Linked DNA regions of Homo sapiens: region 2 is linked to region 1. Evidence: fine-mapped expression QTL. A gene starts in region 1. The other region holds a variant in brackets. All regions are shown on one strand. Distances are from middle to middle.

Evidence for each region. PIP is the estimated chance that this variant, and not a neighbour inherited with it, causes the effect.
Region 2: its variant is fine-mapped to the expression of MALRD1-AS1 in whole blood (TOPMed, PIP 0.96).

The regions. Positions count from the first base shown.
Region 1 is chr10:19,726,128-19,731,524 of GRCh38, reverse strand. It overlaps MALRD1-AS1 (MALRD1 antisense RNA 1), which reads left to right and starts at 2,975. Exons shown (of 5, transcript NR_120646.1): 1 at 2,975-3,120. MALRD1 (MAM and LDL receptor class A domain containing 1) reads right to left here. Exons shown (of 40, transcript NM_001142308.3): 39 at 744-819.
Region 2 is chr10:19,747,071-19,752,467 of GRCh38, reverse strand. It overlaps the pseudogene MTND1P37, the pseudogene NMTRQ-CTG1-1 and the pseudogene MTND2P16. Among named protein-coding and RNA genes, the nearest start is that of MALRD1-AS1, 21 kb to the right of the region's middle. The variant A/G (reference allele first, on the strand shown) is at 3,285.

The DNA of each region.
Region 1 (5,397 bases):
TCAGCACACACACACACACACACACACACACAAAGTAAACTATGTGAGGTGATAGATATTTTAAATAGTTTCATTGTAGTAATCACTTCACAATGTATACCTATAGTAAAATATAATGTATACCTTAAACATATAAAAGTTTTGTCAACTATACCTAAAAATGACTTAAAATATAAAAAATCTAAAAAAGGAACAAGAAAGGTTTTCCTTGCCATTTTCTCCCTGCTTATAAAAATAAGGGGTAGCCCCAAAAAGGGCCAAGGAAGATGTAATACATTCTCATTTGTTTTTTCTCTTCTAAGTTATCAGGTAATGGCCCTCACTAGTCACCCTAAATTTAAACAGAACATAGAATGCTATCCTCTCTTTTGTTTTTGAAAATAAAATATGAAAGACATTCAATGAATAGTTACTGTAAGCAGCTGACTAATACTCTGTGGGTTAAACTGATATTTCCCAGATTTTTCAGCTCTTTTTGAGTATAAATAGTGACCACAACACCATTTAACAGTGAAGTGATCTTACAAGCAGACTGAAACTGTCCTGAAATGGACAATTCTCACAGCATATTTATAGAGATGGAAACTCCTTTCTATCCCCAATTGAAATAACTCCACTAAAACATTTCTTTTAGTTATGATGTAGAAACATGATCAAGCAACACTGGTTCAGCCTGTGTGTGTGTGTGTGTTTGTATGTGTGTGCATATGTGTGAAAAGATATAGTTCACCCTTGCCACTTACCTCTGTTTTCTCTGGGTTGCTCCAGTTCCCGTAAACTGGATTGACAAAGGCACAGTTACCACTTCCCTCGGTTTTCCTTAAAGCACACAGGGCCATCAAAAATAAAAAACTATTGACATTTACCATAGTACATTTTCAGGTTATTGTTTGTTAGAAACTTTTGAGAGACATGTTGTCTAGCCAGCACACTTATTTTCATGAATGTATTACCATAAGTAAAGTTTGTTTTTTATTTTTTATTTTTTGCAGGACACCAAGGCAACCACATTCAGGAAAGCAAATGTAATTTGAACTCTGAGTGTTTAGATCCAAATAAACTCAGGCAAATAAAAGAAATTGCAAAAGTTAGTCTTAATGTTGATTTCTTAAAATATTACTCAGTGCAAAGTGTCCAACATTAGAAAGAACAATGTAATATGAAGCTGTACTAGTGATAAAGAAAGGCCATCTTGAAGTCCTTTACACTGCACAGTGCCAAACCACTACATCCTGAAGACTGTTTTCCATGACAGTATCTGTCATAAAGATCTGTAGCACATGAGTCATAGTCTTTAACATTTTAATCAGCAAATTTAAATACAACTGTTTTGAAAAGTTCTTTAGGGTAGTGTTTCATGAAACTCAAAAACAGCAAGCCCTTGGTAATATCACATATTGGACTACATGTGCATAATTCACTATAATTAACTGGGCTCCATATGATTATTTTCCTTTTATACTTTACTTAAGAATTAATAGACTTATAGGCCGGGCGTGGTGGCTCACGCCTGTAATCCCAGCACTTCGGGAGGCCGAGGCGGGCGGATCACGAGGTCAGGAGATCGAGACCATCCTGGCTAACACGGTGAAACCCCGTCTCTACTGAAAATACAAAAAAATTAGCCGGGCGTGGTGGCGGGCGCCTGTAGTCCCAGCTACTTGGGAGGCTGAGGCAGGAGAATGGCGTGAACCCGGGAGGCGGAGCTTGCAGTGAGCCGAGATCGCGCCACTGCACTCCAGCCTGGGCCACAGAGCGAGACTCCGTCTCAAAAAAAAAAAAAAAAAAAAAAAAAAAAAAAAAGAATTAATAGACTTATTAGAAGACACGCAGCCCTGGACTACTTGGTGACAACTGATGAAGAAAAAATGTCCATCGTAGGAACAAAAAAAAGTAACCAAGAACTAAATACACACACACACACACACACACGAAAGGATCCTATACACACATGTGTACACACACACACACATAAGAAAGGATCCTATACATGCATGTGTACACACACACACACACACAATGGAGAATGGAAGACCAATTCCAGGATGATTGTTTTAAGAGCTTAATGACACGAGTAACAAATATATAATGTATGATAATTGTATAACACAATGTATAATGTATGTATAATGTATATTTTTTGCCTATTCAGGATACAGTGAAAATTAATGTTTGTCAGTAATATAATTCTAAATCCCAAAATAAAATGTAGCAAGAAGGGGGCTCTTACTGATTTGATTTCTGAAAACAAATTGCCATAGGCATAACTGCCTATTGTCATCTACCAAACCACATGGTCCTTTTCAAAGAAACTGCAGCATCAGTGAGCCTAACAGTCTAATCTAGCTAATTATGTTTGGCTGGCAATACATTGTCCCTGTGGATTCAGTGTCTTTTAAGCTTCCTGATCTCCACTGGCTTAAATATACAATAGATTAAATGTTTCACCCTCACCGCGGGTACATTTTGCTTATTGATGAATAGGGCCATATGCATCTATTTTGTGGGTTATTATTGAAAAAAGTCTGAATTGAGTCAACAAATATCTGTTAATTCCTTAAGCACTAATTGAATGCTTATTAGTTGCTCTGATTAATTTGAGTAAGTTGTGTTTGACTCTTTGCCTTTACTTTATTCAAGACTAGTCTATGTTAAATTCTCGGAGTAGTAATCTCAGTACATAGCATGGTTAGTGCATGAACTGAGCCAGGGATGATCTTGGAGTTGAGATTGGGTAGGGAGTGAAGTGTAGTTTTGAAATGCATCAAAATACCAAAGCAGGAAAAATTGGACATGGAAGTAGGGATGATCAAAACATAATAGAAATTAGGAACTAAGTAAAGATAAGACAGACACTGACACCAAGAGCTCAGAAAAATTAAGAGGCTGAAATCAGGCATGAAATCAGGAAGCAGGAGGAAACCCAAACCACAGGGCTAGACAGGACAGATGGTCAAAGCCTGAGCATACAACCAGGAGCTGAAGGGACCAGCTTGGCCGTCAGTTGCAAGGGTGTGAGGCAGAAGCAACACAAAAGATCTTGATATGAAGCAATTATTTTTGGTCTTAAACTGCTGGGACTCCAGATGACCCAGACCACGGTCAGCAGGCAGAAGCCAGGTAAATTTATATAATTCTCAGCTCTGTTAATTCAATTATTGAAGCTACTTGTCTTCTGAAAGGGTTTTAAGTCTGAAATAATTTTCTATTAAAATGAAAAAACATTTGAAGGTGTCTGGCCTTCAAGATTTGGGTAACTACAAAGAAGGAAGATGATATTTAAGAGTAAGGATGTGGAGTTGTAATAAAAGAAGAAAGGGTTTCAGTGTGAGTATTGGAAGGTGAGGAATGGCAAATCCTTCCTACTTCAACTTTTGTTTTTTAGTAGTCTCAAATTGCTTTTATTTTTCCTAGATTAAAGATATATCTCCCATTCTTGAAAATCCCTGGACTATTAGACTTAAATTTTAATGTCTTTCCTATTTATTTATAAGGTAAACTATTACACCGTCCACAGATTCTTCCATGAAGGAAATTGCTAGTGTCACTCTATACATTTAGTATTTCAAGTTCAATATTATGATTTTCCATTTTCATCAACTATGTCAATTTGACATTCAAACACAGGCAATTTTACTTAAAATGGTGGATCCTTACATGAGGGAAATAAAATGTTTGTTTCATTATAAAGTTTCCTGCCAGTTCTGAAACTCAATGGTGTAATGATGAGTCTTCATCAGGCCAAAAAAAAAAAAATGCAATGTTTGACTTACTGTATTTGTCAATATGCCGGTAGCTCTTAAGCAGTTGATTTTTTTTCCCCCAATGAATAAGTGAGTTGTAAGAATTGAGGTTCTAAAGAATATAACCACCTCTAGGAATAATGATGATAAAGGAACTGACTTAGAAATTTTGAGTAGAGGAAAGGAAGTTGCATGGATCATATAAGTTTTTCTCCCTTATCATGCATTCATATAAATTATTATTAAGTTTATCTTATATCCATTACGTGCAGATACTGTGCGAAGTGGCATTCTGAATGTGTGACAAGAGACCTAGATCAATGCAGAACTAAGATAATTCTGATGGCAGTTTCCAATTTTAATTTAGCGAGCATATTTATACTTCTAATGGAATTCACTTATTAACTGACAACATTGTTTTAGTGTTGATAAAAGCATGGAAGTGTTTATAATAGTCTGAAACTATTACAAATGGGAAAGGAGAAAAAAAGAATAAAACAAAAACCAATCTATGTTACATCCAGTAAACATGACTTCGAGGTGAATATTTTGTATTTTTATTTTTAACAGCTTTATGGAGCTATAAATCACATGCCATACAATTCACAAACTTAAAGTACACAATTCAATGGTTTTCAGTAATGTTACTTTTATTAATTTTTAATTTTTAAAACAGTGGTATATATCACATAAAATTTGCCATTTTAACCATTTCAAGTATACAATTCAATGCCATTAATTCCACTCACAGTGTTGTGCTACCATTACCACTATTTCCAAAATGTTTTTATAACTCTGAACTGAAGCTCCATGGCCAGTGAGCATTAACACCCCATTCCCCTCCAACCAATCCCAGGTAAATTCTGATTTACCTTCTGTCTTTATGAGACTCGAGGTACCTCACCTAAGTGGAATCATACAGTATTTGTCCTTTTGTGTTTGGCTTATTTCACTTAGCATAATGTTTTCAAGATTCATCCATATTGTAGTATGTATCAGAAGTTTAATCATTTTTATTGCTGAATAATATTCCCTTGCATGTATATGTCACATTTTGTTTATTCATTCACCTGTTGATGGAAATTTGGGTAGTTTCCATCTTTTCACTATTGTGAATACTGCTATGGGGAACATTGCTGCATGAATATCTGTTTAAGTCTCTATTTTGATTCTTCGAGGTATATAACTAGGAGTTGAATTGATAGAACACACGGTAACTCTTTTTTAACTTTTGAGGAACTGCCAAACTGTTTTTGATAGTGCTGCACCATCTTACATTCCCACCAACAATGTGTGAGGGTTTCTATTTCTCCTCATCCTCATCAACACTTGTTATTTTCAGTTTTTAAATTATTATTATTATTGCTATCTCAGTGGATGTGAATTGGTATGTAATTGTGGTACTGATTTTCATTTCCCTAATGACTAGTGATGTTGAACATCTTTTTATGTTCAACTATATGTAATCTTCTTTGAAGAAATGACTATTCTAGTCCTTTGCCCATTTTGAAATTGGGTTGTCTTTTTGTTCTTAAGTTGTATGGATTTTTATATATTCTGGATATTAAACTTTTATCAGATACGTACTTTTGAATATTTTCTACCATTTTGTAGATTGTCTTTTCACTTTCTTGATAATGTCTTTTGTTGCACA
Region 2 (5,397 bases), 21 kb before region 1:
AGCTAATTTTTGTATTTTTAGTAGAGACTGGGTTTCACCATATTGGCCAGGCTGGTCTCGAACTGCTGGCCTCAAGTGATCCACCCACCTCAGCCTCCCAAAGTGCTGGGATAACAGGCATGAGCCACCTTGCCTGGCCAAATCACATGTAAATATTTTTCTAGAAGATCTGAAATAATTTCCTTTGAAATCATCTTTGCTTTTGGATTTCTGAATGTCTGCTATAGTTATTACTCCATGATTTCTGTTATCTGTTGCCTCAATTTTTTATTGACATTTCCCTAGAAAATCATAAATTTTACCTAGGTTTTCAAATTGATTAGCCTTCATTAGTACAAATAACTTTTTAAAGTTTCAAAATCTGGCCAGTAGTTGTAAAGCTTTTCCTTATCTCGTTTCTCTTCGTGATTTTCATATTTTCTTTACTTTATTGAACAAGCTGGTAGCTTATCTCTTTTATTACCGTTGAAGTGCATGGGTCTCATAATCAGTTTTAACATATGCCCGTGTGCTATAATTTGTCAAATTTCCCATTTGATCTTTATTAGTCAGTTTTTAATGTAGTCCATAGGTTTGTTATTCTTTTGCCATTTTTAATTGAATTAAATACATAATTAAATTATCCTTATATCTACTGGCAAAATAAGTAAAGTGACAAATCTTCATGTGCATACATCTTTGGTGACATCTCATAAAAGATAACTCTTTGTCACCAATCCTCAAATATATTACACAATCAAACCGTTCTTTTATCTCTTCTTATTAACAGTTGCATCTGAGACAGATTTTAATTTTCCGTCAGGTAAATAAGTTTCAGTTTGGTTTCTACTTAGGCCATAATGATTTCCATTGCTTTTTGAAAAGAGAACATAATCAATTCAGGTGATGTTAATGTATTGATTTTTTTAGGATTCTTTTAATGATCAATTTTTATAAATATTTCATGGAGCTTGGAAAGATGTTTTTGACAGGGTATAGATTTTTATGTGTTTCTAGACTAGCCTTATTATTTATACCTTATACACTTAAGTTTTTGATGTATTTGATTTGCTAATGACAGGGACAATTATGTTTAAATCTCTCCCTAGTATTGTTTTCTACTCAGAGGATTTTTTTCTTTATATATTTAAATATTATGTGATTTGGTAAAGAGGATTCGTGGCAGTTATGCTATCATATTCTTATCATATTCTTTATAAGCATAATAAGAGCTCCCAGTAACACTTAATGATATTTCCTTGGCTTCAGCTTTTTCAAATATTAATTTTCTTAATCAGAATTTGATTTTGCTGACATTTAAAAAAATATGACTTAGTTCACCACTCTACTTTCAACTTCACTTTACATTAGGTGTATGTTTTGTATACAGTAAGTGTTTTTGTGTTTTTAACCAATAAATATTTTTTGCTTTTACTAAAATATCTATGGTATTTATAAATTTTGTTTCCTTTACTGTCATTTTTAAGAGCTGAAAGCATAAAAATTTAGAAAGCATAAAAATTAGGTCTCACCAAATACAGAATATCAACAAATATATTGAAATTATAAAAAAGAACTAAACTAAAATTATGCAGATGAAAAATACAATAACTGAAATTTTAAAAAGATTACTAGAGGGTCTCAAAAGCAGATTCCAGCATGCAGAAGAAAGAAGCCATACATTTAAAGATCATACAATTCTCTAGTATGAGAAACAGAAAGAAAAATAAATGAAGGAAAATGAACAGACTTCAGAGATCTGTGGGAACTATGAAGTACACCAACAACCACTCATGGGAGGCCCATAAGAAGGAGGAAAAGTAAAATGGCCAGAAAGAACATATGAAGAAATATGGGCAAATATTTCTCAAATTTGATTTCAAAGAACTATACACATGCAAGAATCTCAAGAAAAACTCTAGAAGAGAACAGTATAAATCTTCTTGACCTTGTAATTGGCAAGAGTTTCTTAGATATAACATCTAACACACAACCAAGGGCAAAACATAAAGAAATCATACATCATAAAAATAAAAACAAATTGTACATCAAAGGACACGATTAAGGAAGCAAAAAGACAACCCACAGAATGGCAGAAAGTGTTTGCAAATCATCTGTCTGATAAGGGTCTAGTATCCACAATATATAAAGAACACTTACAACTCAACAATTTAAAAATAAGTCCATGAAAAATGGCCAAAGTATTTGAGTAGACAGTTTGTTTTTGGAGCTCCCAGCTAAACTGAGGTTCTAGTACTAGAGAAGCTAGCAACCCGCCCCTAACACAATACAACGAAGAACTAGATGTGGGTGTTTACTCTGTGCTTTTCATGTGATACTTCTTTTACCTGGCAGGTGACCTGAAGCCTTGTTGTCCAACCTGTGACTAGGGGATTGTCTCTCACATGGGAAACGTGTTTACACTGGCAGATGCCCTTGTGGCTCTTCTGCAATGTGTCAAGTTTATGATTCTCTGACTAAGGCTCTGGGGCTAGGAACCTGACCTTGTGTTCTCTTCTGGTGTCCCAAGCAAAGCTCAACCTGGAGCAACCCTTGGTGCTTTAGGTAGAAAGCGCAAATTTAATACACCACCACAATAGGGAACAAGTTCAAAGGTTTTTACTTACAGATCCTGGTCAAGGAGGGTGCAATGAGTCAGAAGGGTGGTCCTTTATCCTTGTATCATGTAGGCAGGAATGAAGAGTCAGGCAGAAAGAGAATGAGCTCATGAAAGTATATATAAGGAAATAGGGTGTGGATCACTTTAAGTTTTTGGGCAAATGCTTGAATAGTGCATTTAAAGGAAGTGGCAGGAAAGAGGGAATCCCAGTCTCCTAGACAGAAAAGGAGTTCCTGAGTTCTCATCTCTGGCCACCAGCTTGAGTAATCTGGGTGTGGTCTAGACTGGACACTGTGTCAAGGGTAAATTAGTGCTGATTCTGGTGTGAGAAAGTTAAACTTGTATTGAAAATGGATACAGATGCAACAAAAAATTTTAAGAATTCATTACACAGATCTCCAAAGAAGATATACAAATGGCTAACAAGCACATGAAAAGATTCCCAACATTATTAGTCATTAGAGAAATCCAACTTAAAACCACAAAACACCACTTTATCACCACTAGGGTGGCTACAATAAAAAACATGGATATTAACAAATCTTTGTGACAATATGGAGAAACTGGAAACCTCATGCATTGCTGGTAAGAATGTAAATGATGCAATCAGTGTGGAAAATAGTTTGGTGATATCTGAAGAAGTTAAAAAATATAACCCAGTAATCTTACTCCTTGATACCTACAC[A/G]AGATAATTGAAACTACTTGTCACACAAAAACTTATACATGAATGTGCACAGCAGACCTATTCATAATAGCTGAAAAGTGGAAATAATTCATTTTATCAACTGATGAATGTACAAACAAAATATGACATATCTATACCATATAAATATATCCATATATCTATATATTATTCAACAATACATAGTATTAAAGTAGTAGAACACCCTACAACATTGACAATCTTGAAAACATTAGCTAAGTGAAAGAAGCCAGACATAAAAAGTTACATATTATATAAGTTCCCTATTTTTCTGTGAATTCTGCAGAGAAGTAGATAATTTTGTCTATATTAAGTATCTAGAATAGGGAAATCTACAAAGACAGAAAGCGCATTACTGATTGTCAGGTAATGTGGGAAAGGGAGAATTGGGAATAAGGGCTCACAGATATGGAATATGTTTTTGAGGTGACAGAAACATTCTGGGATTAGACTGTGGTAATAGATGCACAAGATGAGAATATATATAAAAATCACTGAATTTTATAATTTATATAGGGGTAATAAGGCTATTGCTCTTTGTAAGTTCTTGGATGATGATGCGTTTAGGCAGGAACCCTGTTAATGGGGGTAAACCTCCTAGGGATAGTAGAATTAGTGGAATTACAGGTGTCAGCCATGCTCATTTGTTTCAGGCGTGAGATAGTGACAGGGTTGTGGTGCTTACACTCAGGTTGAGTGCTAGAAATGCGGCTGTTGTTAAGATAAGGTAAATAATCAGGTTTAGGGTGGTAATATTTGGGTTATAAATTAGTACTGCTGTTATTCAACCTATGTGAGTGATTGAGGAGTAGGCCAGGATTTTACACAGTTGGGTTTCATTAAGTCTCCCTCAACTGCCCACTCTAATGGATAGGATTCTGATAGATAAGGGGATGTTCATGTTTGTTGATGGGAAAATTTGAAACATAATCGAGATAGGGGCTAGTTTTTGTCATATCAGAAGTATACCAGACATTACAGAGATTCCTTGGGTTACCTCTGAGACTCAGAAGTGAAAGGGGGCTATTCCTAGTTTTATTACTAGGGCCACTATTATTAAGAATGAGAATTGATTGATAGTGTTTATAATTTTTCATTGTCTGGAAGCCAGGTTATTGGGAGGGATGTCTATTATAAGAATTATAGATGTGCTTGCTTGTGTAAGGAAATATTTGGTGGCTGCTTCTGTAGAGCAGGGATTTATTTTTTAAATTAAGATTGGAGTAAGGCTAGTTTGTTTATTTCTAGGCCTGTTCAGGTGAGAAATCAGTGTGAGCCTAGCATTGTGATAAGAGTTCCTGTGAAAATAGTAAGAGAAATACTAAGTTGAGCTAAGGGATTAATTAGTACGGGAAGGGTGTAACCTACATTTGTGAGGTATGGGCCCGATAGCTTATTTAGCTGACCTTGCTCTAGGACGTGGTGTAATAGGTAGCACAGAGAATTCTGGATTCTCAGGGGTAGGTTCAATTCCTATAGAACCTAGGAATTATTTCAAATCCTAGAAATAAGAGCATTTTAACCTCTATTGTTTACTCTATCAAAGTAATTCTTTTGTCAGACATATTTCATATGTTTGGTGTGGGATGCTGGAAATTAAGACAGGCATTGAGATATGTCATATGCAAAAATGCTAGTGTAAGTGCTAAGTTTGTTAAGATGGCAGAGCCCAGCAATTGCATAAAACCTAAAACTTTATAATCAGAATTTCAACTCCTCTTCTTAACAATATGCCTATAATTAACCTTCTCCTTATCCCCACTCTTACCGTTATAGCGTTCCTTGCACTCATCAAAAGAAAAAGTTTAGGCTATATACAACCACACAAAGGACCCAACATTGTAGGTCCCTATGGCCTGCTTCAACCATTCATTGATGCAATAAAACTTTTCACCAAAGAACCTTTACCGCCCTCAACATCTACTATTACCCTTTATATTATTGCTCCAAACCTGACCCTTTCTATCGCTCTCCTCTTACAAAGTCCCCTCCCTACGGAGGTTGAATTATGCTCTGAGGTCACCCCAACCACATTTTTTAATGCAGGGATAGTAGGCTAGGGCCTCTAGGCTTGTTTGAGTTTTTATTTGCATTA